Linked DNA regions of Homo sapiens. The protein of the gene in region 1 interacts with the protein of each later gene in a pairwise test. Each region holds a gene or a part of one and is shown in the gene's direction. Other genes may lie near its edges.

What was found.
Region 2: the proteins of SPG21 (region 1) and TFIP11 interact in binary tests that used the Homo sapiens proteins (3 or more experiments, as listed by UniProt).
Region 3: the proteins of SPG21 (region 1) and PLP2 interact in binary tests that used the Homo sapiens proteins (3 or more experiments, as listed by UniProt).
Region 4: the proteins of SPG21 (region 1) and RABAC1 interact in binary tests that used the Homo sapiens proteins (3 or more experiments, as listed by UniProt).

The regions. Positions count from the first base shown.
Region 1 is NC_000015.10:64,979,915-64,986,914, reverse strand, and holds part of SPG21 (maspardin), read left to right. Parts: intron 1-3,321; 5' UTR 3,322-3,345; coding exon 3,346-3,408; intron 3,409-5,889; coding exon 5,890-6,051; intron 6,052-7,000. UniProt on the Homo sapiens protein: May play a role as a negative regulatory factor in CD4-dependent T-cell activation.
Region 2 is NC_000022.11:26,490,740-26,495,473, reverse strand, and holds the end of TFIP11 (tuftelin-interacting protein 11), read left to right. Parts: intron 1-534; coding exon 535-677; intron 678-815; exon of another isoform or gene 816-1,169; coding exon 1,170-1,335; exon of another isoform or gene 1,336-3,105; coding exon 3,106-3,461; 3' UTR 3,462-3,801; coding exon of another isoform or gene 3,802-4,011; 3' UTR 4,012-4,234; downstream 4,235-4,734. Other genes in the region: SRRD (SRR1-like protein), read right to left, coding at 3,802-4,011, 4,404-4,449. UniProt on the Homo sapiens protein: Involved in pre-mRNA splicing, specifically in spliceosome disassembly during late-stage splicing events. Intron turnover seems to proceed through reactions in two lariat-intron associated complexes termed Intron Large (IL) and Intron Small (IS).
Region 3 is NC_000023.11:49,167,756-49,174,903, forward strand, and holds the start of PLP2 (proteolipid protein 2), read left to right. Parts: upstream 1-4,142; 5' UTR 4,143-4,245; coding exon 4,246-4,341; intron 4,342-5,373; coding exon 5,374-5,526; intron 5,527-5,632; coding exon 5,633-5,728; intron 5,729-6,579; coding exon 6,580-6,670; intron 6,671-6,916; coding exon 6,917-6,939; 3' UTR 6,940-7,148. UniProt on the Homo sapiens protein: May play a role in cell differentiation in the intestinal epithelium.
Region 4 is NC_000019.10:41,956,322-41,963,820, reverse strand, and holds RABAC1 (prenylated Rab acceptor protein 1), read left to right. Parts: upstream 1-4,499; 5' UTR 4,500-4,528; coding exon 4,529-4,584; intron 4,585-4,872; coding exon 4,873-5,085; intron 5,086-5,437; coding exon 5,438-5,535; intron 5,536-6,701; coding exon 6,702-6,803; intron 6,804-6,886; coding exon 6,887-6,975; 3' UTR 6,976-7,138; downstream 7,139-7,499. UniProt on the Homo sapiens protein: General Rab protein regulator required for vesicle formation from the Golgi complex. May control vesicle docking and fusion by mediating the action of Rab GTPases to the SNARE complexes.

The DNA.
Region 1 (7,000 bases):
GTTTCTAATAATGCAATACTAGGAAATGTCTCCATTAAGAAGTATTTAGATGATATAGAAGTATTTCAAGTCTGTCCAGGTAGAAAATATTCCAGAATTAAGTATATGTGCTAGTTGCTTTCAATTAAAAGTTATAATCAGCTTAGAGAAAGCCTATAGTTAAAATGGCTTAGTTTTTTTTTGTTTTTTGTTTTTTTGTTTTTTGTTTTGTTTTGTTTTGTTTTGTTTTGTTTTTGAGACAGACTCTCACTCTGTCACCCAGGCTGGAGTGCAGTCTTGGCTCACTGCAACCTCCGCCTCCTGGGTTCAAGCGATTCTCCTGCCTCGCCTCCCGAGTATTTGGGATTACAGGCGGCCACTGCCATGCCTGGCTAATTTTTTTTGTATTTTTAGTAGAGATGGGGTTTCGCCATGTTGGTCAGGCTGGTCTTGAACTCCTCACCTCAGGTGATCCACCTGCCTCAGCCTCCCAAACTGCTGGGATTACAGGTGTGAGCCGCCGCGCCTGGCAAAATTTTTTAACATATTAATTTTTTTGTTTGTTTTTTTGAGATTGAGTCTCACTCTGTCGCCCAGGCTGGAGTGCAGTGGCACAATCTTGGCTCACCGCAACCTCTGCCTCCCGGGTTCAAGTGATTCTCCTGCCTCACCCTCCTGAGTAGCTGGGACTACGGGCGTGCGCCACCACGCCAGGCTAATTTTTGTATTTTTAGTAGAGACAGGGTTTCACTACCTTGGCTAGGCTGGTCTTGAACTCCTGACCTCGTGATCCACCTGCCTCAGCCTCCCAAAATGCTGGGATTACAGGCGTGAGCCACTGTGCCTGGCCTTAACATATTAATATTTAAGATAAAATGGATATGCAAAGAATTTTCTTTATTTCACTATATATATCTGTGCACACTAATTTTCAGTATAAGACTGGCTGATGATTTTCTTGGTACTTTAAAGCAACTTATGATTTTAACACACTTCTCTAAAATTACCATCTTAGCTTTGAGAAGAGAGACCATTATCACAATGTCAAGGTTGTAAATCAAGTTTAGTGTTAGAATGTCTACATCTGCTGTCTCCTCGGGGTTCAGCTTAGTACGTCTCCAAGGTCACAGTTGAGTCTACTGAGGGCTCTGTGTTCCTGAGGGAGCAGATCTCGAGGGCCACCAAGGAAGAGTTCCATTGAGTTTAGAATCCCCTGTTCCTTGCCAGTCCAGAGAACTCCCTCTAAAACGACAGTTCAGAGTCAGCCCGGGAGTTAGGTCTCACGAATCTCACCTCGTGTTAGCCGTGCTAGGATCAAGGCTTGCTCTTGAGGTAGAGGAAGTGGTACAAAGCAAATATTTGAATCCTTCCTGGTGGAATTTCCTCACTTGGCAATAAGAATCTGCAACAGGGAACTATAATTTCAGTTTCCTGTTATGACATAGCACAGATGCCTGAGCAAAGAGGGGCAGCCTTTTAGTTGAGGATGTTCAGCTAGGCCAAAGCTCACAGATGCCAGGGTTAGAAGGATGGCCCCCTTCATTCTCCTTAGAATGTAGTTATTCGTTCAATCAACAGATAATGCCTGCTGTGTGCCAAGCACTGATCTAAGCTTTGGGGACACAGTGGTAACACAGTCATAGATGAGGAAACAAACTCCAAAAGGATCAAGACTTATCTAAGATCACAGAGCTATGAAAACCAGAAGTCACTAAGCTCACAACAAAAGACTACACATTTTTTCCTAAGGGCAAATGTTTCATTTTGTTGTTAGTTATAGTGCCTTCAAGTTTACATTATAGATCTTTCTGAGGACATTGTGTAACTTTTAATCACGTCCATATGAGTGGCAAATTTGCCTGTATTTTGTATTAAGAACTACATGTAGGCGGGGCACGGTGGCTCATGCCTGTAATCCCAGCACTTTGGGAGGCTGAGGCGGGTGGATCATGAGGTCAGGAGCTCAAGGCCAGCCTGGCCAAGATGGTGAAACCCCGTCTCTACTAAAAATACAAAAAATTAGCCGGGCGCAGTGGCAGGTGCCTGTAATCCCAGCTACTCAGGAGGCTGAGGCAGGAGAATCGCTTGAACTTGGAGGGTGGAGGTTGCAGTGAGCTGAGATCACGCCACTGCACTCCAGCCTGGGTGACAGAGTGAGACTCTGTCTCAAAAAAAAAAAAAAAGGGAACTACATGTGAATTTCTGGTTATGTGCTATTACAGTTAGATTTATGGTGTATTGCGAATTTATCAGGAAGCAGGCTTAACTTAAACTTCTTTCTCTAGGCTGGGTGTGGTAGCTCATACCCGTAATCCCAGCACTTTGGGAGGCAAGATGGGAGGATTGCTTGAGCCTAGGAATTCGAGACCAGTGCAGGCAACACAGGGAGGCCCCCATCTCTACAAAACCAAAAAATTCACCTGACGTGGTGGTGTGTGCCCATTGTCTCAGCTACTTAGGAGGCTGAGGTTGGGATAATCACTTGAGCCTCAGAGGTTAAGGCTGTGGTGAGCTGTGATTGTGCCATTGAACTGCAGCCTGGACAACAGAGCAAGACTGTCTCAAAAATTAAAAAAGTAAAAAAACATCAACTCCTTTCTCTAGCGTGGACTATCCCTATAATCAGACAGGAGCATCTTTATTAAAGGGATTCTTAAGGTAATGTCAAAAGATAACTGATGGTACTGCAGTTGAGAACTAAGACAGGAAGTATGGTGTCAGAAAAGGCTGTCTCACATCTGGTCCTAGCATTGCCATGTGATCTTGGGTAAGTCATTTAAATTTTCTAGACCAGATTCCTTTTCTGGAAGAACTAAGGGTGTTGGAATAATTTCTGTAAGAGCTCTTCTGGTGGCCGGGCATGGTGGCTCACGCCTGTAATCCCAACACTTTAGGAGGCTGAGGTGGGTGGATCACCTGAGGTCAGGAGTTCGAGACCAGCCTGGCCAACATGGTGAACCCCCATCCCTACTAAAAATACAAAAATTAGTTGGGCGTGGTGGCGGGCACCTGTAATCCCAGATACTCGGGAGGCTGAGGCAGGAGAATCACTTGAACTGCAGGAGGTAGAGGATGCAGTGAGCTGAGATCACGCCACTGCACTCCAGCCTGGGCAACAAGACTGAGACTGTCTCAAAAAAAAAAAAAAAAGAGTGCTTCTGATTCTGTGATTGTAGTATTTCACCAAATTGTTTTCTGTAGTTGGACTATATACTGACAAAATAGCCAGTTTCCTTGGCTTTCTTCTTTAAAATATTGTTGGTATAGCTAGATGAGACTCTACATTTAGTTCTGATGTAAACATGAATTCTTGACGTGAAATATCACATGCTTTTATTTCAGGATTAACCTCCATTTCAGCTAATCATGGGAGAGATTAAAGTCTCTCCTGATTATAACTGGTTTAGAGGTACAGTTCCCCTTAAAAAGGTATGTATGGTTTTACTATACCTCTTATTTGCAAAATCTTGTATTGTTTTTGTGTGTGATTTAGATGTCATGTCTTAGTAGTGTTTGAGAGTAAAGGTTACTGCCGAGTATCATGACTGTGGGTTGCAGAGGATTAAGTTCACTCCTTCCCTGTCATGTACAGTCAACTTTTGAGACTCATTTTAGAGTGAAAGCAAGTGTAACTGTACTCATTTTTATTTATTTATTTATTTATATTTATTTTTGAGATGGAGTCTCGCTCTGCCGTCCAGGCTGGAGTGCAGTGCACTGCATGATCTCGGCTCACTGCAACCTCTGCTTCCCAGGTTCAAGAGATTCTCCTGCCTCAACCTGCCAAGTAGCTAGGATTACAGGCATGCGCTACCACACTCAGCTAATTTTTGTATTTTTAGTAGAGGCAGAGTTTCACCATGTTGGCCAGGCTGGTCTCGAACTCCTGACCACAAGTGATCCGCCCACCTTGGCCTCCCAAAGTGCTGGGATTACAGGCGTGAGCCACCGCACCCAGCCTGTACTCATTTTTTATAATTGCTTTTACATATACAAGCAAGCAGGTATGTATGTACTCTTCTGTATAGTTTAGTGGAAAGTTTACAGCAACTGTATAGTGAGTACAGTCAGATTATATTCCTGTTCCTCAGATTTAAGAATGGGGTCACATTATAGAGCTTCTGTTTGCAATGACATACTCATTCTGCCACAGTCATCTTCTAGAAGCTTTATTTTCCTGGGATGTTTGAAAACCCAAAACACTTATATTGCAGTTGAGTATTGACTCTGCTTCCCAAATTAATCCCAGATGTTTGGGGATCACACTAGACAAAGGCAGTTCAAGTCACTGAGTAGAGTAAAACCTTTGCTGATTCCCTTGCAGGAGTGTTAGAATCCAGTGATCTTAAGATCTTTTGCAGCTGTTTGTGATGGCTCATGCCTGTAATCCTAGCACTTTAGAGACCTAGGAGGATCATTTGAGGCCAGGAGTTTGAGACCAGCCTGGGCAACATAGCGAAACTCTGTCTCTATAAAAAAATGAAAAAATTAGCCAGGCATGGTGCTGTGCACCTGTAATCCCAGCACTTTGGAAGGCCGAGGCAGGAAGATTGCTTGAGCCTAGGAATTTGAGATCAGCCTGGGCAATATGATGAGACCCTTTCTCTACAAAAACTAGAAAAAATTAACTGGGCGTGTTGGTGCACGCCTGTAGTCCCGGACACTCAGGAGGCTGAGATGGGAGGATTGCTTAAGCCCAGGAAGACAAGCTTGCAGTAAGCTGTGATCGTGCCACTGCACTCCAGCCTGGGTGACAGAGCCAGACCTTGTCTCAAAAAAAAAAAAAAAAAAAAGAAAAGAAAAGAAAAAATGTGAGTGGCAAGATACACAGGACAAAAACATGAGCGTGAGATACATTATCACCATCTGTGACCTGTGGAAGTCCAAAGGGAACTGTTAGGCCTCTCTGGACTTTGCCTTGCTCCATTTATCTGCTCCTAGTGATGCCAGTGACCCTGGTTAGTGTGCTGCCACCCACAGAGTGACACTGTGGAGTCCATAGCCCTGCTAGTGAGGAGCTCTCAGAAAAAAGAGCCTGGAGGCCTTGAGTTTTTTAATATGAAAGTAGAATAAATACTGATTTGCATTGTCAAATGTTTAAGCAGTTAATGTACTTTTCTAAATACCACCAAAAGTGAAAGCAAAAATTAAACTAGGATGCCGTGAATAATAATAATAGCTAATATTTCTAGGACACTTAACATCTGCCAGACTCTGCTGAGCACTTGTCTTACCTCAGCTTGCCTTTTTTTTTTTTAAGAGACAGGATCTCTCCCTCTGTTGCTCAGGCTGGAGTGTTGTTGTATTTTTATTTATTTATTTATGTATTTTAAAGAGACAGGATCCAGGCCGGGCGCAGTGGCTCACGCCTGTAATCCCAGCACTTTGGGAGGCCAAGGCGGGTGGATCATGAGCTCAGGAGTTCGAGACCAGCCTGACCAATATGGTGAAACCCCGTCTCTACTAAAAATACAAAAAATTAGCTGGGCATGAGGGTGTGTGCCTATAATCCCAGCTACTTGGGAGGCTGAGGCAGGAGAATCGCTTGAACCTGGGAGGCAGAGGTTGTAGTGAGCCAAGATCGTGCCACTGCACTCCAGCCTGGGCTACAGAGCGAGACTCTGTCTCAAAAAAAAAAAAAAAAAAGGAGGAGGGGGAAGAAACAGAGAAGCAGCAGCCCTTTGGAAGATTATAAAGTAGTTCTAAGTAGTTCTGTGGAATACGTTAGCCCTGAGGAAAGAAAAGGAGATCAGAGGAGTTTGTCATGCATGCTAATCTGGTGTGAGCTCCAGGTTACCTTGTAACAAACAAGGCAGTAGTAGTAAAATTGTCAGTGAAATGACAGTGTAAAATAACATAAAAAGCAAATTTATAAGGTTTTCCACTTTTTTCTTTTAACCTTCCCTCCAGATTATTGTGGATGATGATGACAGTAAGATATGGTCGCTCTATGACGCGGGCCCCCGAAGTATCAGGTGTCCTCTCATATTCCTGCCCCCTGTCAGTGGAACTGCAGATGTCTTTTTCCGGCAGATTTTGGCTCTGACTGGATGGGGTTACCGGGTTATCGCTGTAAGTATTACTGATTAAAATTCAGACCCACGTTTTGTGTGTTTTTTTTTTTTTATGCTTCTGTCTCTCATCAGCTATAGTAATGGGCACAGTTTGTTTGTTTGTTTGTTTGTTTGTTTGTTTGTTGAGATGGATTCTCACTCTGTCGCCCGGGCTGGAGTGCAGTGGCGTGATCTCTGCTCACTGCAACCTCCGTCTCCCGGGTTCAAGCGATTCTCCTGCCTCAGCCTCCCGAGTAGCTGGGATTACAGGCGCCCGCCACTACGCCCAGCTAATTTTTTGTATTTTTAGTAGAGACGGGGTTTCGCCGTGTTGGCCAGGCTGGTCTCGAACTCCTGACCTCATGATTCATCCACCTCAGCCTCGCAAAGTGCTGAGATTACAGCCACGAGCCACTGCGCCCAGCCAGGCAGTTTTTTTAATTGAGGAAAGATACTGTTTGCTTATTTTAATATGTGAGATGAAGCCTTTTGAAGGAGGCTGGTGTGAGTCCACGGTCACACAGAGATTCAGAGGGAACAAACCTCTTTTGGCAGCCTCTCCATGCCCAGCATTTACGTGCATTCTCTCCTGACGCCCTTCTCTCAACTCAGAGCGGTAGGAAGCGTTGTCCTTCTTTACAGATGAAGAAACTGAGGTCCGGCTCACACAGCCAGTAGTGGTGGAGGGAGGAACTGAGCTCCGTCTCCTGGCTCTGTTTCTGCTCCTCATTTTATCACAGCACTGCTTCCAGGGTTGCTGAGCATGGAATATTAGACAACAAAGGGATTTGCTAACATACAAGTGACTTGAAAAGCTGGCTTTTCATGTAAATCTTTGATATTTGAGGTGAGATTCATTAATTAGCTCATATGTTAGCATTTGGTTAGGAAGTTTTTTTGTTCCTGATTGTTACTTTATAGCTGAGTTTGGTCTAAATCCAGTTTCCCACTGATCATTCTTGAGTCTT
Region 2 (4,734 bases), on another chromosome or scaffold:
TGAAACCCCATCTCTACCAAAAATACAAACCAGCCAGGTGTGGTGGCGGGCGCCTGTCGTCCCAGCTACTAGGGAGGCTGAGGCGGGAGGATGGCTTGAACCTCGGAGGCAGAGGTTGCAGTGAGCCAAGATCTGCCATTGCACTTCAGCCTGGGCAACAGTGAGACCCTGTCTCAACAAAAAAAAAAAAAAAAAAAAAAAAAAAAAAAAAAAGCCAGGAGTTGTGACTTATGCCTGTAATCCCAGCCCTTTGGGAGGCTGAGGTGGGCAGATCACCTGAGACCAGGAGTTTGAGACCAGCCTGGGCAACATGCCAAAACGCTGTCTCTAATAAAAACACAAAAATTAGTTGGCCACGGTGGTGCACACCTGTACTCCCAGCTACTCGGGAGGCTGAGGCACAAGAGTCACTTGAACCCGGGAGGCGGAGGTTGCTGTAAGCTGAGATGAAAACGGACATTGTCTTTGCTCTTTGTGCTTCTTTGGCTTTGCCAGTACTAAAGCTGTGCCTTACAGACCGGGTTTCTCTTCCAGGGATGTGTCTTGGTGAGCTAGTCATTAACCCCCACCAGCAGCACATGGATGCATTCTATTGGGTGATTGACTGGGAAGGGATGATCTCTGTCTCTAGCCTGGTGGGACTTCTTGAAAAGCACTTCTTCCCCAAGTGGCTTCAGGTACACTTTGTTTTGCTTGGATTTCTGGGGGAGGGAACTGGGTGGGGATTAAGTTAATTTTCTGCCAAGGCCTGACTGTAGGTACAATTCCATAATGAAAATAAATTACATGGTAGGGTAGGAATGAGTTAGGTCATCTTCATAGTGGGCACCATTTATTGGACATTTGCCATGTATCAGAAGCTGTTCCAAGCACTTTATTTGCTTTATCTCAGCTCCTCTCAGCAACCCTATGGGGTAGGGGATATGGTATCCCTGTTGTGTAGACATGGAAGCTGAGGCTCAGAGAGTTTACATGCAAGGGCACTTTAGCTACCAGGCTGACTCCAAAATCCATATTCATAAGTGCTAGACTGTTTAGCTACTATAAATCCCTGTAAAGTAGTGTCACTAGCCTGTAGGACCAGGATCAAAACAAAACAAATGGCCACTTCAGAAATCTTGCCTTCATTTGTTGCCACGATGGATGCAAGTAATTTTTCTTTTTGGCAGGTGCTGTGCTCTTGGCTCAGTAACAGCCCAAATTATGAGGAGATCACCAAGTGGTACCTGGGTTGGAAGTCGATGTTCTCAGACCAAGTGCTGGCACATCCATCTGTCAAGGACAAATTTAATGAGGCACTTGATATCATGAACCGGGCGGTGTCCTCCAACGTTGGTAAGTGAGGATTCCCATTTTGGATGTCCTGGCCCCAAGTTTCAGATTTTACACATGTAAATGACACAGAATCAGAGTTTTCTGGTTCCTGTAGGCAGCCTAAACCTTAGGTCACACTTTTGCACATAGCAACAGACTCTCACCCTGCTGACTGGGGTACATGGTCAGCTGGCACCCACTGCCCAGGTCTACCATGACTGAGAGGGGCATCTTCCCTGAGTGGAGACTGACTTAAGCTGGATTCAGATGATGTCAGTCTAACCCCAGGCCCCGCCCTCTTAACCACTGTGCTGTGTGGCCTTTTAAGGCTCATTCATGCCTGAGCATGCTGCTTAGGTGACGCATCTTACAGTGTGGAGTTTGGCACGCGGTCTGACACTTGGTGATTGCTCAGCCTTAATCAGCCCCATTTTACCTGTTAAACAGTAAGATCTACTTTATAGGCTAAAAGGGAGAGTGAGTTCATGCTTGTGTATAGCCTTCAATAGGTGGTGTCTGTGTTGTCAAAAACAGGCAGTTCACTGTTCGTGTACTATATCTGTTCCCAAGTTCTAGGTAAGTCATTCTGCCTAGATCATAAGTAAGTGAGAGTATATTTATGTTTCTACATTTGGGAGCCTATTTCAACCAGTCCTGTGCTCCAGTGTTGCTCATTAGCCGATTCGCAGCATTGAAATGGGATCGTCTAGTCTGTGTTTTACAGATAAGCCCAGCGAGGCTGAGAGCCTGTTCAAGGTCACATAGTTAAAGGGTGGCAGTTAGAACTGGAATTTCTATTTCCTGAGTCTTTAATTCTTGTTATTTAATAGCCTAGGCCAGGCACGGTGGCTCACGCCTGTAATCCTAGCACTTTGGGAGGCCGAGGCGGGTAGATCACGAGGTCAGGAGTTCGAGACCAGCCTGACCAACATGGTGAAACCCCGTCTCTACTAAAAATGCAAAAATTAGCCGGGCGCGGTGGCACATGCCTGTAATGCCAGCTACTTAGGAGGCTGAGGCAGAAGAATCGCTTAAACCTGGGAGGCAGAGGTTGTAGTGAGCCGAGATTGCAAGCACTGCACTCCAGCCTAGGTGACAAGAGCGAGACTCGGTCTCAAAAAAAAAAAAAGAAAAATAGCCTATTCTGTGAAAACAGAGATTAAGTAATAAGGCAAATATACTTCTCTGCTTCTGTAATTATCAAGTTTTTTCTAAAAACTCTTCCTTAGCTACCCTTGGCCTCATGTTTCCAAAACTGTTCCCTGAATATACCCCTCAATTAGCACTTAGCATTTATGGTCTTGGTATTATCCTTTAAACACTCATTTCAGCTCCCTAAATATATGTGAACTTCTTTCAGGATGGGGGCCCTGTGTGGGTAGGTTAAAAATAAAGCCAGTATGGGCCCTATGTTTTCAAGGTACTAAAAGCTGCCTCTTTGGTGGTGGGAAATGGAAACTCTACAGAGCAAGGTGGGAACAGAAGAGTGGCTGAGGACTCTCTGTTAATGTTTCCAGCTCTGAAGGAAGAAATCCCTTGCAGATACTTCATTTTAAAATGTTGAATATTAATAATCTGGTTACTAGATACTAGCCAGGAACCTTCTGAACAGTTTTTATGTGATACTGGCCAGTCGTCTAAACTTCCTCCAAAGTTGTATCTTTGAGGCAGAGCTGCCCTTCAGTGAGTCACAAGCACTCTGGCACACCCAAGACCTGGGCCAAGCCACAGTGTCAACTTCCATACACCTGGAAACACCTCTCCTCACCGCCCTGTCCTCCTGTATCTTAGGTGCCTACATGCAGCCAGGAGCACGGGAGAACATTGCCTATCTCACCCACACGGAGCGGAGGAAGGACTTCCAGTACGAGGCCATGCAGGAGAGGCGGGAGGCTGAGAACATGGCTCAGAGGGGCATTGGCGTGGCCGCTAGCTCTGTGCCCATGAACTTTAAGGACCTCATTGAGACCAAGGCTGAGGAGCACAACATTGTCTTCATGCCCGTCATTGGGAAGCGACACGAAGGGAAGCAGCTCTACACCTTTGGCCGCATTGTGATCTACATCGACCGGGGAGTGGTCTTTGTCCAGGGCGAGAAGACGTGGGTGCCCACCTCACTGCAGAGCCTGATCGACATGGCCAAGTGAACTGTGGCAGGTCCAGAACCAGTCAGAGACTTGCCCCTAAGAGGGATGTACTGTAAATAAACAGTATTTTTAGATCACCTTCAAAAGGGTAACTTCTTTACTCAGGAGCTACTCCACATCAGGCCAGGTCATGAGGGAAGGATGTAAAATGGGACAATGCCACGTAGGGCAGGAATCTTTATACCAAGTCCTCATGTGGGGTATCGTCCTCAAAACAGGACAGCCAAGTTGATGTTCTTTCCTGGCAAAGGAGTTCTCTGTAGTTCCTCCATAGCAGCCTTCCCTTTAGTCTCTGGTGGCAGCTTCTACCTCAGCCAACACTGAGTACCTCACAACGAGTTCAGTCAGTAGCAGAAGGATCTTCTCTCTTGTTCCTGATGATTTCAAGGTCCTCACAGTCCTGATAATCTGGTTCTTCCCGAAACTCCCAAATATCTATGGAGAGCTGTTCTAGCTTTTGCACAGGGAACCAGTGGACAGAGGTATCATTAAATATGTCCATGTATTGTGAAGTCTGAGGAAACTCAAGCTCCTCCAGTCCTTTTAAAATCTGAGCAGAAAAATTCAAGTATAAAAACTTCAGATAGTCACAGTAATCCCCACTCTTCTGGGATAAATTTCCACTTTACTTGTCATCCCCACTTTACTTTTTAAAAAAATAACAAATAGGGTATTTTGATTTAAATGCTTTTGCACAATGAATTGGGCGCCCCAAGGACAGTGGATATCATGGACTGTGATACTAAGAATAAAGGAAATAAGGAAAAAACTAAGAGATGCATTAAAGAGTCATAGCTTTCTGGAACACAGACCCATGGAGAGAGCTGACAGTACACTAGCGCCACTTAGCCCATGAGTTTCCTCCTACGCCTGTAAAGAAAGATAGAATTCTTCACAGTTTCACACCCTTTTCCATCCCAGCCCCTTTATTCAGATAGATACCTTTGCAATGTAGGGATAATTTTTCTGCAGAATCCTTGCCAACAACCTAGAAATTAAAAAAAACCAAAAAAACAAAAAAAAAACACCATGATTAGGAGGTATGAGGATAGTTTCATTCAACTTTTAAGACACATAGAAGGGCAAGATGATTGAAGCATAGTAAGAATTCAGGAAAAAACTCAAGATGTGGAGTAAACCAGTTAAATAGTTGAAAATGTGGGCCAGGCGCAGGTAATCCCAGCACTTCAGGAGACTGAGGCGGGCGGATCATTTGAGGTCAGGAGTTCAAGACCAGCATGGCCAACATGGTAAAACCCCATCTCTACTAAAA
Region 3 (7,148 bases), on another chromosome or scaffold:
AGCCCCAGTCTATAAATACAGTCACACCCAGGAGACTAATAATAGTAACCCCAGCCACCATGTACTTAGTTTTATCCCTGCTACTGGCTTTATTGCAATATTTATTTTCATCTACAATAGTTGCACATCTACTCAACTATCCGAATATGTCCATTTCGCAGAGGAGGAAAGTGAGGCCCAGGGAGTGCAGATAGCTACAGAGAGGAGGGTCAAAGCACGATTTAATCAAGGCCTGATTCCCAAGTCTGTCCTCTCAATTTCACCTGCATTGACAAGTATTAATTGAACCCCAACTGTATATGTTGCACTGTGCTAGGTACTGTGGAGATGCTGGAGGAACAAGACATAAAATTTCTTTGTGTAGCTGATGTATGTAATGAGAGTAGACAGATGTCAGACAAAAAAGACGAGAAAATGAATAAATAAAAAACCAGGCCAGGCGTGGTGGCTCACGCCTGTAATCCCAGCACTTTGGGAGGCCGAGGCTGGTGGATCACGAGGTCAAGAGTTCAAGAGCAGCCTGGCCAAGATGGTGAAACCCCGTCTCTACTGAAAATACAAAAATTAGCCAGGTGTGGTAGCAGGTGCCTGTAATCACAGCTACTCGGGAGGCTGAGGCAGAGAATTGCTTGAACCCAGGAGGTGGAGGTTGCAGCGAGCCAAGATCGCACCACTGCACTCCAGCCTGGGTGACAGAGCGAGAATCAGTCTCAAAAAAAAAAAAAAAAAAAAAAAAAACTTCAGGCCAGACATGGTGGTTTGTGCCTGTAATCCCAGTACTTTGGGAGGCGGAGGCGGGTGGATTGTTTGAGCCTACAAGTTTGATACCAGCCTGGGCAACATAGACCTTGTCTCTACAAAAAGTTTAAAAATTAGCTGGGAGTGGTGGCTCATGCCTGTAGTCCCAACTACTTGGGACACTGAGGTGGGAGGATCACTTGAGCCTGGGAGGTCAAGGCTGCAGTGAGCCATGATTGCACCATTCCACTCTAGCTGGAGTGACAGTGAGACCTTATCTCAAAAAAAAAAAAAAAAAAAAAAAAAAGGCCAGGCTCGTGGCTTACATCTGTAATCCCAACACTTTGGGAGGCCAAGGCAGGCGGATCACCTGAGGTCAGGAGTTCGAGACCAGTCTGACCAATATGGAGAAACCCCATCTCTACTAAAAATACAAAATTAGCCTGGTGTGGTGGCACATGCCTGTAATCTCAGCTACTCAGGAGGCTGAGACAGAAGAATCGCTTGAACCCGGGAGGTGGAGGTTGCGGTGAGCCAAGATTGTGCCATTGTACTCCAGCCTGGGCAACAAGAGCAAAACTCCTTCTCAAAAAAAAAAAAAAAAAAAAAAGACAATTTCAGAGAGAAGTGAGAGTCATGAAGCTATGAAGCTAGCAAAAGGAGGTTACATTGTGGGAGATGATGGTGAGCTTCTGGCCTCTTTGAAGACATAACTCTTGAGCTGCAACCTGAATGACCAGAAGCCAGGTATATGAAGCACTGAGTGAAGGGCATTGACAGCAGGGGGAATAGCAAGTGCAAAGGTGTTGAAGTGGAACCAGGTTCATCTTGTTTCAGAAATTCAGACGTGTCCTCACAGAGTTGGAAAGCACATACTCATCACTAGGAAAAGTATGTTTCATCCCTTCCACTATTCACTCACTCTTCCGGCAACCGGGGCTGAAAGAGGGGAGCTCTTTCCTTAGTTTTGAGGGGCCCTGTGTTGGCAGAGAGAGCAGGCAGGCCCTTGGGTTGAATCCTCCTGGCCATCCAGTTATGATTCTCCCCCACTTCAAATGAGATGAGAATAAAAACAACTTCTAGTCTGGAGAGTGTGTCCCTCAGGGTACCTCTGGGATCCTGATTCCAGGAGACGAGATGCATGTCTTAGATGCAGAAATTAAGGCTGAGCTGGGGGAAATTACTTGCTCAAAATAACACACTTAGCCAGGCGCAGTGGCTCACGCCTGTAATCTCAGCACTTTGGGAGGCCAAGGCGGGAGAATTGCTTGAGGTCAGGAGTTCAAGACCAGCCTGAGCAACATAACGAGACCTTGTCTCTACTAAAAAATAAATAAATACAAACAAAGTGTCTACAAATGTCACCCAGCCTTGCACCCCAGGAGCCATCCATTCATCTTGCCAATCCCCCAGAAATAAACTTTCCTATTCCTCATGTACGATTGTGCTGACTGGCCCCTCTCTTCAGAACCAGGAAACTGAGGCCCAACATTTAGGGCCAGGACTTCCTTGGGATTGCAGAACACAGAATCAGACCTTGGGCTCTCTGGGCTCTAACACTACTACAAAATATGTTTTTTTAAAATAGAGACAAGCTCTCACTACGTTGCCCAGGCTGGTCTCGAACTCTTGAGCTGAAGTGATTCTCCTACCTCGGCCTCCCAAAGTGCTAGGATTACAGGCATGAGCCACTGCTCCTGGCCTTGGGCTCTAACACTTGAAACAATGCTTGCCCTATTTCTGAGCAACTCAATGCTCACCAACCCCTATTCTCACACAGCCTTTACACTGGCAGGGTCTTATTCTCATCACTGCTCAGAGGTTTATTCCACTGTCCACAATCCATTATCCAAAAACAAAAAGCTCTGGAAACTGATGGTTTTCCCACAAGATAGGCACTATTTGGTTACAAAACCTGACCTGATCTAACGAGGAACAATTTTCTTTCTTCCTTTCTTTTTGTTTTTCCTTTTTTGGAGACAGGGTCTTGCTCTGTTGCCCAGGCAGGAGTGCAGTGGTCTGATCATGGTTCACTGCAGCCTTGAACTCCCAGGCTCAAGCAATCCTCCCACCTCAGCCTCCCGAGTAGTTGGGATTACAGGCACGTGCCACCATGCCTGGGCTAATTTTTTTCTTTTTTCTTTTTTTTTTTTTTTTTTGAGACGGAGTCTTGCTCTGTCGCCCAGGCTGGAGTGCAGTGGCGCAATCTTGGCTCACTACAACCTCCACCTCCCAGGTTCAAGCGATTCTCCTGCCTCAGCCTCCTGACTAGCTGGGATTATAGGCGAGCGCCACCACACCCGGTTCATTTTTTGTGTATTTTTAGTAGAGACGGGGTTTCACCATGTTGGACAGGCTGGTCTCGAACTCCTGACCTCGTGATCTGCCCACCTCGGCCTCCCAAACTGCTGGGATTATAGGCTTGAGCCACCGCGTCCGGCCGCCTGGGCTAATTTTTAAAATTATTTGTAGAGATGAGGTCTCACTGTGTTGCCGAGGTTGATCTCCAACTCTTGGGCTCAAGCGATCCTCCCACCTGAGGCTCCCAGAGTGTTGGGATTACTGGCATGAGCCACTGCGCCCAGCCGAGGAACACTTTTCAATCCTTACCCAGTTATTGTGAACGTTCATACCTTTTCTTGAAGAAATACCGTTTTTGTTGTTGTTGTTGTTTTTGAGACGTAGTTTCGCTCTTGTTGCCCAGACTGGAGTGCAATGGCATGATCTTGGCTCACCGCAACCTCTGCCTCCCGGGTTCAAGCGATTCTCCTGCCTCAGCCTTCCGAGTAGCTGGGATTACAGGCATGCGTCACCGTGCCCAGCTAATTTTTGTATTTTTAGTAGAGACGGTGTTTCTCCATGTTGGTCAGGCTGGTCTCGAACTCCCGACCTCAGGTGATCCACCCGCCTCGGCCTCCCAGTGTTGGGATTACAGGCGTGAGCCACCGCGCCTGGCCCTTTTTTTTTTTTTTTGTAACGCGGCAGCTCCAAACCCCGCTGAGAGTATATGCATGGGAAAACTTTCTGAAATCAAAAATATTCCGAATTCTGGCAACATACTGGGCCCCAAGTCTTTCGGATTTAACTCTGCCTCGGCCGTTTTATTCAGTTAAGGAAACTGAGTCACTCCATCCCAAAGCCAGATTCCCGCGGTTCTAAGCTGAAGCTGTCTCGGGTGCATTTGCATTCCAAAAAGGCGAAGGGTCCCGCTATTACTGCTCCTGGTACCTGGAGCTGCCAAGCACCCCTGCGATGGGGCGCCCCGGGGGCTGTGCGCCAGGCTGGGAGTATCCTTGGGGGGCGGGGCGAGGGGGCTTCCGGGGCGGCAGCCACCTGGCCCGGCTCCGGCCCCGCCCGCGTCAGCTCTGCGCGGTGATTCACTCCCTCCTTCGCCCCGGGGCCCCCTTCCCGGCCAGACGGCGGGCAAGACAGCTGGGTGTACAGCGTCCTCGAAACCACGAGCAAGTGAGCAGATCCTCCGAGGCACCAGGGACTCCAGCCCATGCCATGGCGGATTCTGAGCGCCTCTCGGCTCCTGGCTGCTGGGCCGCCTGCACCAACTTCTCGCGCACTCGAAAGGGAATCCTCCTGTTTGCTGAGATTGTGAGCGTTCTGGGGCAGGCGCGTGGGCAAAAGCGGGATGGGGTGGCTGGACCATGCGGAACTGGATGGTCCGGGTGAGGCAGGCACTTGGCCGGGGCGCTCGGCAGTGGGGTGCAGGTGGGTGGGTTCACGGTGGAGGCCCGAAACCCGGGGCGCAGGGCGAGTCGGTGGGGTTTGACGAAGGTTGTTGAGATCTGGTGGTCCCCGGGGTGAAGCAAGGAGCCTATAACGCATACGGAGGGCTACGTGGGGACAGCCTGCGTGAACTCATCAGTGGACGCATCGAAGGGGTCCCAGGGTGCTGGGAAGTGGGGGCCTCCTGTGGCAGGGCGTGGCGCGGCCTGGGCACAGGAGGGCGGGCTGGCAGCGCGCCCAGGGGCAGGGCCTGTTGGGGTGGGGCCCCCCCGCCCCGCGCTAGTCCCGCGGTGTAGAGCGCCCCGCCCTTCGCCAGTTCTTCCTCGCCCTTCAGAGGCCGGGCGGGATGTCCTTAGCTTTTCGGGGTTTCCACCCTTCTCAAAGTGGGCGCCGCCTTTGAGTCACTTGTAAAAGGGGTGCGGCGCCTTTAACGGAGTCCTGCCTCTCTGGTGTCACTCTCACCGCTTCCCAAAGGGGTTGCTGGGGGAACCGCGTGTTCCGCCCCGGTCAAGGCCACAAAGCTGGCGTCAGCGGGGCTCACAAAACACCTGGCAGCGCCACTCCCCTCAGGCTGCCCGTAACCTAGAAGGGAAAAGAGGAAACTGAGGCACCCAACTCTACTCCTTACTTGTTGGGTGACCCTGGCCAAGCCATTAAACCTCTCTGTGCCTCAGTTTTCTCGTCTATAAATTAGAAAGAGTAATAATAGTACCCAGAGCATTAGATTGTCGTGATGATTGAATTTGGAACACAGTGAGCACATAAAAAGTGTTTAGCTATTATTGTATGTCATTTCCCCAGCCCTCGTAGGCATCTTAGTATGGGACCCCCAATTTAAACCAATCTTCTCAGCCCTGGTTGCTGATTGAGGTCCCCTTTCCCATGTCACCCTTCCAGATATTATGCCTGGTGATCCTGATCTGCTTCAGTGCCTCCACACCAGGCTACTCCTCCCTGTCGGTGATTGAGATGATCCTTGCTGCTATTTTCTTTGTTGTCTACATGTGTGACCTGCACACCAAGATACCATTCATCAACTGGCCCTGGAGTGTGAGAAGGGGTCCACAATGGCAAGACCAGGGAGGGGTCTGGGCAGTTAGGATTGTCGGGGAACTGTGGTTGCTGACTTCCCTCTTCTCCTCCCTACACCTCACAGGATTTCTTCCGAACCCTCATAGCGGCAATCCTCTACCTGATCACCTCCATTGTTGTCCTTGTTGAGAGAGGAAACCACTCCAAAATCGTCGCAGGGGTAAAGGCCATGGGAGCAGCTCTGAAGCACAGAGCGAAGGGTTTGAGGAGCCAGGGACCATTTCTGCCTTTGCTTCTGGCAGAAATCGTGTGACCCACAGCAAGTCACACTTGTCCTCAGACATGGAGGAAAGTCTGGCCCAGGACTTGGTTTTGCCTCCCAAGGTCTTCATTTGCTGTGAAGGGAAGTCCCTTGTCAGACACAAGGACCTTGGTGAGAGGTACAAACAGGCGGCCCCTTTGTCAATGCACTAGACTACCATCTGCAAGAACTTTGTCCCAAATGTAGTAGAAATTGGGGCCGGGCGCAGTGGCTCATGCCTGTATTCCCAGCACTTTGGGAGGCTGAGGCCGAGGCAGGCAGATCACTTGAGGTCAGGAGTTCAAGACCAGCCTGGCCAACATGGCGAAACCCCATCTCCACTAAAAATACAAAAATCAGCCGGGCATGGTGGTGGGCGCCTATAGTCCCAGCTACTCAGGAGGCTGAGGCAGGAGAATCACTTGAACCCAGAAGACAAAGGTTGCAGTGAGCCAAGATCATGCCACTCACTCCAGCCCCAGTGACAGATGGGTGACAGAGTGATACTGTGTCTCAAAAAAAAAAAAAGTATGACTTGAATTGTGCCCCCTACGGGTAGGGCCACAGTGTGGCCTCCCTGTGTTGAGAGGTATAGGAGGAGGGAGAGTGGGGTAGGATGCACTCTCTTGGCCTTTCCCTGGCTTACCAACCCGGTGCTTGAGTCCCATCCTGCGTGGGGCAGGTGCTGGAGGTGGTGGATACAAGAAGATAAGAGACTGAGTAACCTGACCAGCTAATCTAAACCCCCTCACTCCTATCCTGTCCCCCAGGTACTGGGCCTAATCGCTACGTGCCTCTTTGGCTATGATGCCTATGTCACCTTCCCCGTTCGGCAGCCAAGACATACAGCAGCCCCCACTGGTAAGTGTGTGTGTGTGTTGGTTGGGGGTAAGGGGGTTGCTGAGAGGGCAGAGGGAAAAAGGAAAGGGATCTCTTAAAGGCACGAATGCCAACTCTGGTCTCGTATTGGTACTTAGGGCTTTTGTACCAATAGGTACCATAAGCTTCGGTATTCTTGTGTGTAAAATGTTCATGGACTTTGGATCTTGTTTTAAAAAATGGGCATATAGATTCAGCCAATGCTTTCTCTCTTTTCCTCACCTGCAGACCCCGCAGATGGCCCGGTGTAGGCGAACTTCCCTCATTTCTCTCTGCAATCTGCAAATAACTCCTCCATTGAAATAACTCCTCCCCACCCCAACAACAACATTCCCAGCAGACCAACTCCCACCCCCTCTTTGAGGTAAAAGTGCCTTTATTGGGAGACTTTTGTCTTCCAGCCTGCCAATCAACCCTCCTGGGTGTGGCCACCATATGTGTGTGCCTAGGTCCTCCTTCT
Region 4 (7,499 bases), on another chromosome or scaffold:
GATCTTGGCTCACTGCAATCTCCACCTCCCGGGTTCAAGTGATTCCTCTGCCTCAGCCTCCCGAGTAGCTGGGACTACAGGCGTGCACCACCACGCCCAGCTAATTTTTGTGTTTTTAGTACAGACGGGGTTTCACCATGTTGGTCAGGTTGGTCTCGAACTCCTGACCTTGTGATCTGCCCACCTCGGCCTCCCAAAGTGCTGGGATTACAGGCCTGAGCCACCGCGCCCAGCCCTCTAGTTGTGTCTTTTAATGACAGATGTGCACTCTGTTGGGTACACGCGTGCCTGGGAGTGGAATTGCTGGTTCATGGGATAGACCATGTTTAGCTTTCATGGACGTTGCCAGACCCTTTCCAAAGTTCGAGTGCCATTCTGCATCCAACAGTGTAAGGAAGCAGCAGCTGCTCCACATCCTTCCTCCACTGGGAGTTGTCAGTCCTTTTCATTTTTGCCACCTTGGTGGGGCAGTGAATCCATTTCCCTCGAGGCAGCCTTCCTAACACAGCTCAGGGAGGCAAGTCAGAGGAGGGGCTGGGGCCAGGCCTGGGCCTGCCTGCCTCCCAATGCCAGTGTCTGTGGCCAGGATGCTGAGAGTGAGTGTGAGTGGGTGAGTGTGCAAGTGCATGTACACACCCACTGCACAAGACAATGGATGAGGGAGAAACTCCCGAATCTGAGGGGGAAAGGCAGTTGGAGGGCAGGGGCCATGTGCGCTGGGCACCCCTGGTGACCCCAGAGTACAGCCTGGTCCTGGTAGGGGCTACATGAGCCCAGACCTCTCCTAGGAAACCCACACATACTGTTTAATTTTTCTGGTGCAGGGGAAGAGACGCTCCCATAGACAGGTGGGGAGACTGAGGCCCAGAGACGGGAGGGCTTTCCTTGAGGTCACACAGCAGGGACAGTGACCCACATTTCTGGCTGAATGTGCTAAGGTCTTCCTGCTTTCCCAGCACCGCTTCCTTGGGGATCCCAGGAGGGAGGGAGGAGTCCTCAGGCTGGAGGCACCCATCTTTTTCTTTTTTTTTTTTTTTTTTTTGAGATAGGGTCTCGTACAGTGGCACAGTCTCAGCTCACTGCAACCTCTGCCTCCTGGGTTCAAGCGATTCTCTTGACTCAGCCTCCTGAGTAGCTGGGATTACAGGCGTGCACCATCACGCCGAGCTAATTTTTTTTTGTATGTTTAGTAAAGATGGGGTTTCACCATGTTGGGCAGGCTGGTCTCGAACTCCTGGCCTTAAGTGATCCGCCCATCTTGGCCTCCCAAAGTGCTGAGATTACAGGCGTGAGCCACACCTGGCCTGGGACTCACAATCTTCTCAGGTGCCCCCTCATCTCCCAGCACACCAACCCCCTACCCCCCTAATTCAGGGCCCATCTGCCAAAGGCCCCTTCCCTCAGGGACCCCATTTCTCACCATCTCATGATGTCTCTGCCTCAGGCCCTCCTCTCCCACATTACCCCTGTGTCCAGGTCCCATCTCCTGAAATTCCCTTATTCAAAGTCCCCCCCCACCCTCCCACTCCTAGGACCCCTCCTGCAATGTCCTTGCCCCTCAGACTCCACTGTCCCCCTCCCCGTCTCTTGCCATGGCCTGCGCTGTTCGACACCTCCAGGCCTCTGCCTCTATGTTCTCTGCTCAGAACAAAGACCAGTGGGTTTTGGAATGAAATTGCTTTCATTCAGTTCCTATAAGGAAACCCAACAGCTCTCATAACAAAAGTCCATCCTGAATCTCCTACGGCCTGCCACCAAAGAGGCAGCTGGAGCTCTGTCCCAATTCTATTCCCCAAGCTCTGTCTTTCGGTGGAGGTTCTTCCAAGGGCTACCTCTGCTGCTTTGGCCCTTTGAATTCAGATGCTGCTCCCCTATTCCTGCTCGGGGCTAATTGTGCTATTGCACTCCTCCTTTGGTGTTTTCTGTTTTGTTTTGTTTTGTTTTTTTCTGAGACAGGGTCTCATTCTGTCGCCCAGGCTGGAGTGCGATAGCACACTCTTGGCTCACTGCAACCTCCGCCTCCTGGGTTCAAGTGATTCTCCTGCCTCAGCCTCCCGAGTAGCTGGGATTACAGGCATGTGTATTTTTTTTTTTAGTAGAGATGGGCTTTTGCCATGTTGGCCAGGCTGGTGTTGAACTCCTGACCTCAAGTGATCCACCCTCCTGAGCCTCCCATAAGTGCTGGGATTACAGGACCACGCCCAGCCCCGCAGTCCTCCTTTGATTTTCAAGTTTGAATCCTATTTAGAAAACCTGATTCCAGGCCAGGTGTGATGGGTCACGCCTGTAATCCCAGCACTTTGGGAGGCTGAGGTGGGCAGATCACGAGGTCAGAGTTTGAGACCAGCCTGACCAACATGGTGAAACCCCGTCTCTATTAAAAATACACAAATTAGCTGGGCATGGTGGTGCACACCTGTAATCCCAGCTACTCAGGAGGCTGAGGCAGGAGAATCGCTTGAACCCGAGAGGCGGAGGTTGCAGTGAGTAGACATTGTGCCACTGTACTCCAGCCTGAGCAACAGAGTGAAACTCCATCTCAAAAAAAAAAAAAAAAAAAAAGGAAACCTGATTCCACTAAAAGCCTGGGGGTGACAAAGAGGAAATAAACAGTAACTAGCCAATCTGATCTTCAAAGTGTAACTCTTCCATCTTCAGTGTGGGGCCCTTGCAAAGGGCTTCCCTGCCTATTGCGCCACCAGCCCCTCAGACAGGGCCATCTTCCTCCCACCTCCTGGGAACACCTTCCAGCAGGCCTCAAAGCACAAACCCTAAACTGCTGTAGATCTTGGAAGACAAGAGCTGGGCCTAAAAGAGTCACTTGGGGCCAGGCGCAGTGGCTCACACCTGTAATCCCAGCACTTTGGGAGGCCGAGGCGGGCAAATCACAAAGTCAGGAGTTCGAGACCAGCCTGGCCAACATGGTGAAACCCCATCTTTACTAAAAATACAAAAAATTAGCTGGGCATAGTGGCGGGCGCCTGTAATCCCAGCTACTCGGGAGGCTGAGGCAGGAGAATCGCTTGAACCCAGGAGGAGGTGGAGGTTGCAGTGAGCCAAGATTGTGCCACTGCACTCCAGCCCTGGCGACAGAGTGAGACTCCGTCTCAAAAAAAAAAAAAAGTCACTTGAACCTGGGCATGGTGGCTCACACCTGTAATCCCAATACTTGGGAAGGCCAGGCAGAAGGATCGCTTGAGTCCAGGAGTTTGAGACCTACTGGGCCAACACAGCAAAATCCCTTATCTACTTAAAAAAATTTTCAAAAAAAAAAAGGTCACCTGGTTATCCCATATAGATATTTTCCTTCCAGCCCCACCCAGCTGCTTTGGAAAATTAGGATCCCAGTCTGCTTAAGGGAGCCCAGGCTTCCCTATACTTCCACACACATTTCTTGAGGCCCTGTTCTGGTTCACCCCATTAGAATTCAATTAGAATTCCAGCCCTGTGGGCCAGGCACAATGGCTCACGCCTGTAATCCCAGCACTTTGAGAGGCTGAGACAGGAAGATCACGAGGTCAGGAGTACGAGACCAGCCTGGCCAACATGGTGAAACCCCGTCTCTACTAAAAAAATACAAAAATTAGCTGGGCGTGGTGGCGGGCGCCTGTAATCCCAGCTACTCTGGAGGCTGAGGCAGGAGAATCGCTTGAACCCAGGAGGCAGAGGTTGCAGTGAGCCGAGATTGCGCCATTGCACTCCAGCCTGGGCAACAAGAGCGAGACTCCATTTCAAAAAAGCCCACAAAACTTCTCAACCTTTTGTCTTTCCCAACTTCACTCCCTTCTCTCCAAAGGTGTGTGTGGCGGGGTCGGAGGTGTCCCTAGCCCCAACTCATTCATCTTTGGGACTCCACAAGGTGGGGCAGGGGGCAACCTCAGATACCCCTCCAGCAACCATGGCCCCCTCACTAGCCTCAATCTCTTGAGGAAGGAATCAATTCCCACAAATTATCTAAATCTTTCTACTCAAAATGTAGTCCATGGACCAGGGGCATCAGCATCACCTGGGAACTCAGAAATGGAAATTATGGGCTCCACCCCAGACTTGCTGAATGAAAACATCTGGGCTAGGGCCCAGGAATCTGTTTTAGCAAGCCCTCCAGGTGTTTTTTTATGCCCTCTAGAGTCAGAAGGACAGCTCTGCACGGTCCCCATTGTGCCTTCCCTGGGAGAGTACACAACGCCCGCTTCTGCCGTTAGAGTTCCCATAACGCCCTCGCTCCTGACAGCCCACATGCACCCTCCTGAAACTACAACTCCTATAATACCCAGAGGCGCGCGCCGTCACTTTCTGGGATTATATCTCCCAAGGTGTTTTGCGAGTCAGACCGCCATCATAGCGCCCATCCTCTTAGTCACCGTCAGGACTACAACTCCCACAATACTCGGCGGCAGAACTACAGTCCCCAGCTGCTCCGGGGCTGCGCCACGTCGACTCCGCTGGGTGGGGCCGGCGTCGGGCGGGGCCGGCGGGGTCTTCAGGGTACCGGGCTGGTTACAGCAGCTCTACCCCTCACGACGCAGACATGGCAGCGCAGAAGGACCAGCAGAAAGATGCCGAGGCGGAAGGGCTGAGCGGCACGTGAGCGAGCTGGCTCTAGGCCCTCGGACCAGAGACCCGGGAGTCCGGGCCCCCGGCCCCCTCCTCCCTCCTCCCTCGAGAGCCTGGAGTCCCAGCCCCGAGCCGCAGAAGTGTTGGCCCCGGTCTCCTCTAATGGGACCCTGGAGTCTGGGCCCCTAGTCCCCTCCCTGCCTGCTGTACAGGAATCTGGGGTCCCGGGAGGGAGTCCAGGCACCCTTAGTCCCCTTCTTTTGCGGGGGTCTGGGGCTCCATCCCGGTCCACCACTGACCCGGCCCCACCCCCCGCAGGACCCTGCTGCCGAAGCTGATTCCCTCCGGTGCAGGCCGGGAGTGGCTGGAGCGGCGCCGCGCGACCATCCGGCCCTGGAGCACCTTCGTGGACCAGCAGCGCTTCTCACGGCCCCGCAACCTGGGAGAGCTGTGCCAGCGCCTCGTACGCAACGTGGAGTACTACCAGAGCAACTATGTGTTCGTGTTCCTGGGCCTCATCCTGTACTGTGTGTGAGTGCCTCCCGGGCCCCGCACCCGCACTAGCCCCGACCGGCTGGACCCCTCCTCTCGCCGCTCAGGCCCCGCCCTTCACCGCCCGGTCCCTCCTCTCACCGCCCAGGGCCCTCTTCTCACCGCCCAGGCCCCGCCCCCAAGGATTGGCTCTGCTAGACTACCTTGTCACCAAAGGGCCAGGTCCCCTACCCCACCATCACCCTGGCCAGGATGCAGTGTGACTAAATGTCACCTGGCCCTCCCTGGTCTCCAGGATGTAGCTTGCCGCCCGCCGGTGGAGAAGGCCAGGGCCGTCGGGCTGGCCCAGCCCCAGCTGTCTAACCGCTGCCTCCCTGCACTCCTCCTCCAGGGTGACGTCCCCTATGTTGCTGGTGGCTCTGGCTGTCTTTTTCGGCGCCTGTTACATTCTCTATCTGCGCACCTTGGAGTCCAAGCTTGTGCTCTTTGGTGAGAAACCCCCTGCCCAGATGAATCCTTGGTCCCTCAAATCTTGGTCTTTTGGAATGCAGACAGACCTCAGACCCCAAATCCAAGTCCTTCAAAACCCAAGTCCGCCCAAGCCTAGATGTACACTAGATCCCCCAAACCTGATCCCTTAAAATCTCAGACACAACCGATCCTTCCATCGAGTCTCAGCCCCCTCAAATTGCTATTCCTCAAACCCAGGATCCACCTGGCTGCTGTGCCTTAAACCTACTCCTTTTCAAACCACATGACTCCTCCCCTCTCTCTCCTCCCCTTGCCGCTCTCTGCGGCCAACATCAGCTGCAGGTGCCCACACTGGACACCAGGTGGCCACCTTACACTGGCCTAGATCTGTTCCCGTTTCTTTTCCTGCTTTCTGGGGTGTGACCAGAAAGAACTTGGAACTTAGAGAGGGAAGCCGAGGAGTATGTTTCATGTGGTTCCCAGACTAGTAGTACCAAGGACCACTGGGAAAACAAAATGCCAGGGGAAATTCCCCCCAGGGGAAAATCAAGGTTTGGAGTGGGGTCAGGGAGTTGGGATTGGACAGTTAGGTAGACCTGAAGGCCAGGCTCTTCAGGGGCCTGCAAGTTATGTGCTTGATGGGCTGGGGTGGAGGGAGTGCCTGAAGCACAGGCACGACTTGGCTTCAGCTGATCACCGTCACCAGAGCATGTAGACCCCATCCCTGAGACTTCTATGAGAAGCCTGAAGTTGGTATTTTTATGTGAAATCGTTCACTTTGCCAGCCACAAATCACATCCTTGCAAAACAGCTCAAAAAACACATCCACAGGTCAGATTTGGCCCTTGGGCCACCAGTTTGAGACCCTGGTCTGCGCGAGGGTTGCAGCAGGAGAGCCCTAGTCTAGGGAGCAGGAAGCCGGGATCCCAGGAACTTCCTGGAGGATGTGGGGCAGAGGGCAGAGGGTGGGGCTGAGGCAGGCGAGGACGGTGTGCTGTGTTCTGGAGGGCAGTGGGGACAGCAGGGGAACAGGGTGACCCCAGGACCTGGAGGGCCTTGGCATGAGGAGTTTGGATTCGATCCCGAGAACCTGGAGCTTGTACGGATTGTTGGGGGGCAGCAGGGGTTACTCTGGGAGAGGGCATGGAGAGTCGGAACAGCACCCCAATGCCATCTGCCCCCAGGCCGAGAGGTGAGCCCAGCGCATCAGTATGCTCTGGCTGGAGGCATCTCCTTCCCCTTCTTCTGGCTGGCTGGTGCGGGCTCGGCCGTCTTCTGGGTGCTGGGTGAGTACAGGGTCTGAGCAGCTGGGGTGGATGGTGGGAGCCAGGTGCAGGAGTGTGGCCCTGAGCTGCCGGCTTTCCTGCAGGAGCCACCCTGGTGGTCATCGGCTCCCACGCTGCCTTCCACCAGATTGAGGCTGTGGACGGGGAGGAGCTGCAGATGGAACCCGTGTGAGGTGTCTTCTGGGACCTGCCGGCCTCCCGGGCCAGCTGCCCCACCCCTGCCCATGCCTGTCCTGCACGGCTCTGCTGCTCGGGCCCACAGCGCCGTCCCATCACAAGCCCGGGGAGGGATCCCGCCTTTGAAAATAAAGCTGTTATGGGTGTCATTCAGGAAATATTCCCCCAGCATCTTCTGTGGGTCTCTATGGGTGGAGCTGGGAATACTGCACAGAGCAGGGTTGGGGTGGAACCTGGGGTGTGGGCAAGACGATGACAAGGTAAACAGGTAAAATATTATGGGATGCCCAATGGTGGTGAGTGTTCAGGAGGAGAAAAGAGTTGAGAAGGACAGTGTGCCGGGGGTCCCCGAGACCACCCCCAGGTTTGATGGTTCTTTAGGACTCAGGAATCAGAGAGCACCCCAGGTTTGATGGTTCTCTGGGACTGGGGACTCAGTATGCAATTGCACTCACAGCTCTGATTTACTCTCATCAAAGGGTATGGAGCCAAGTCAGCCAAAAGGAAAGGTGCATGGAG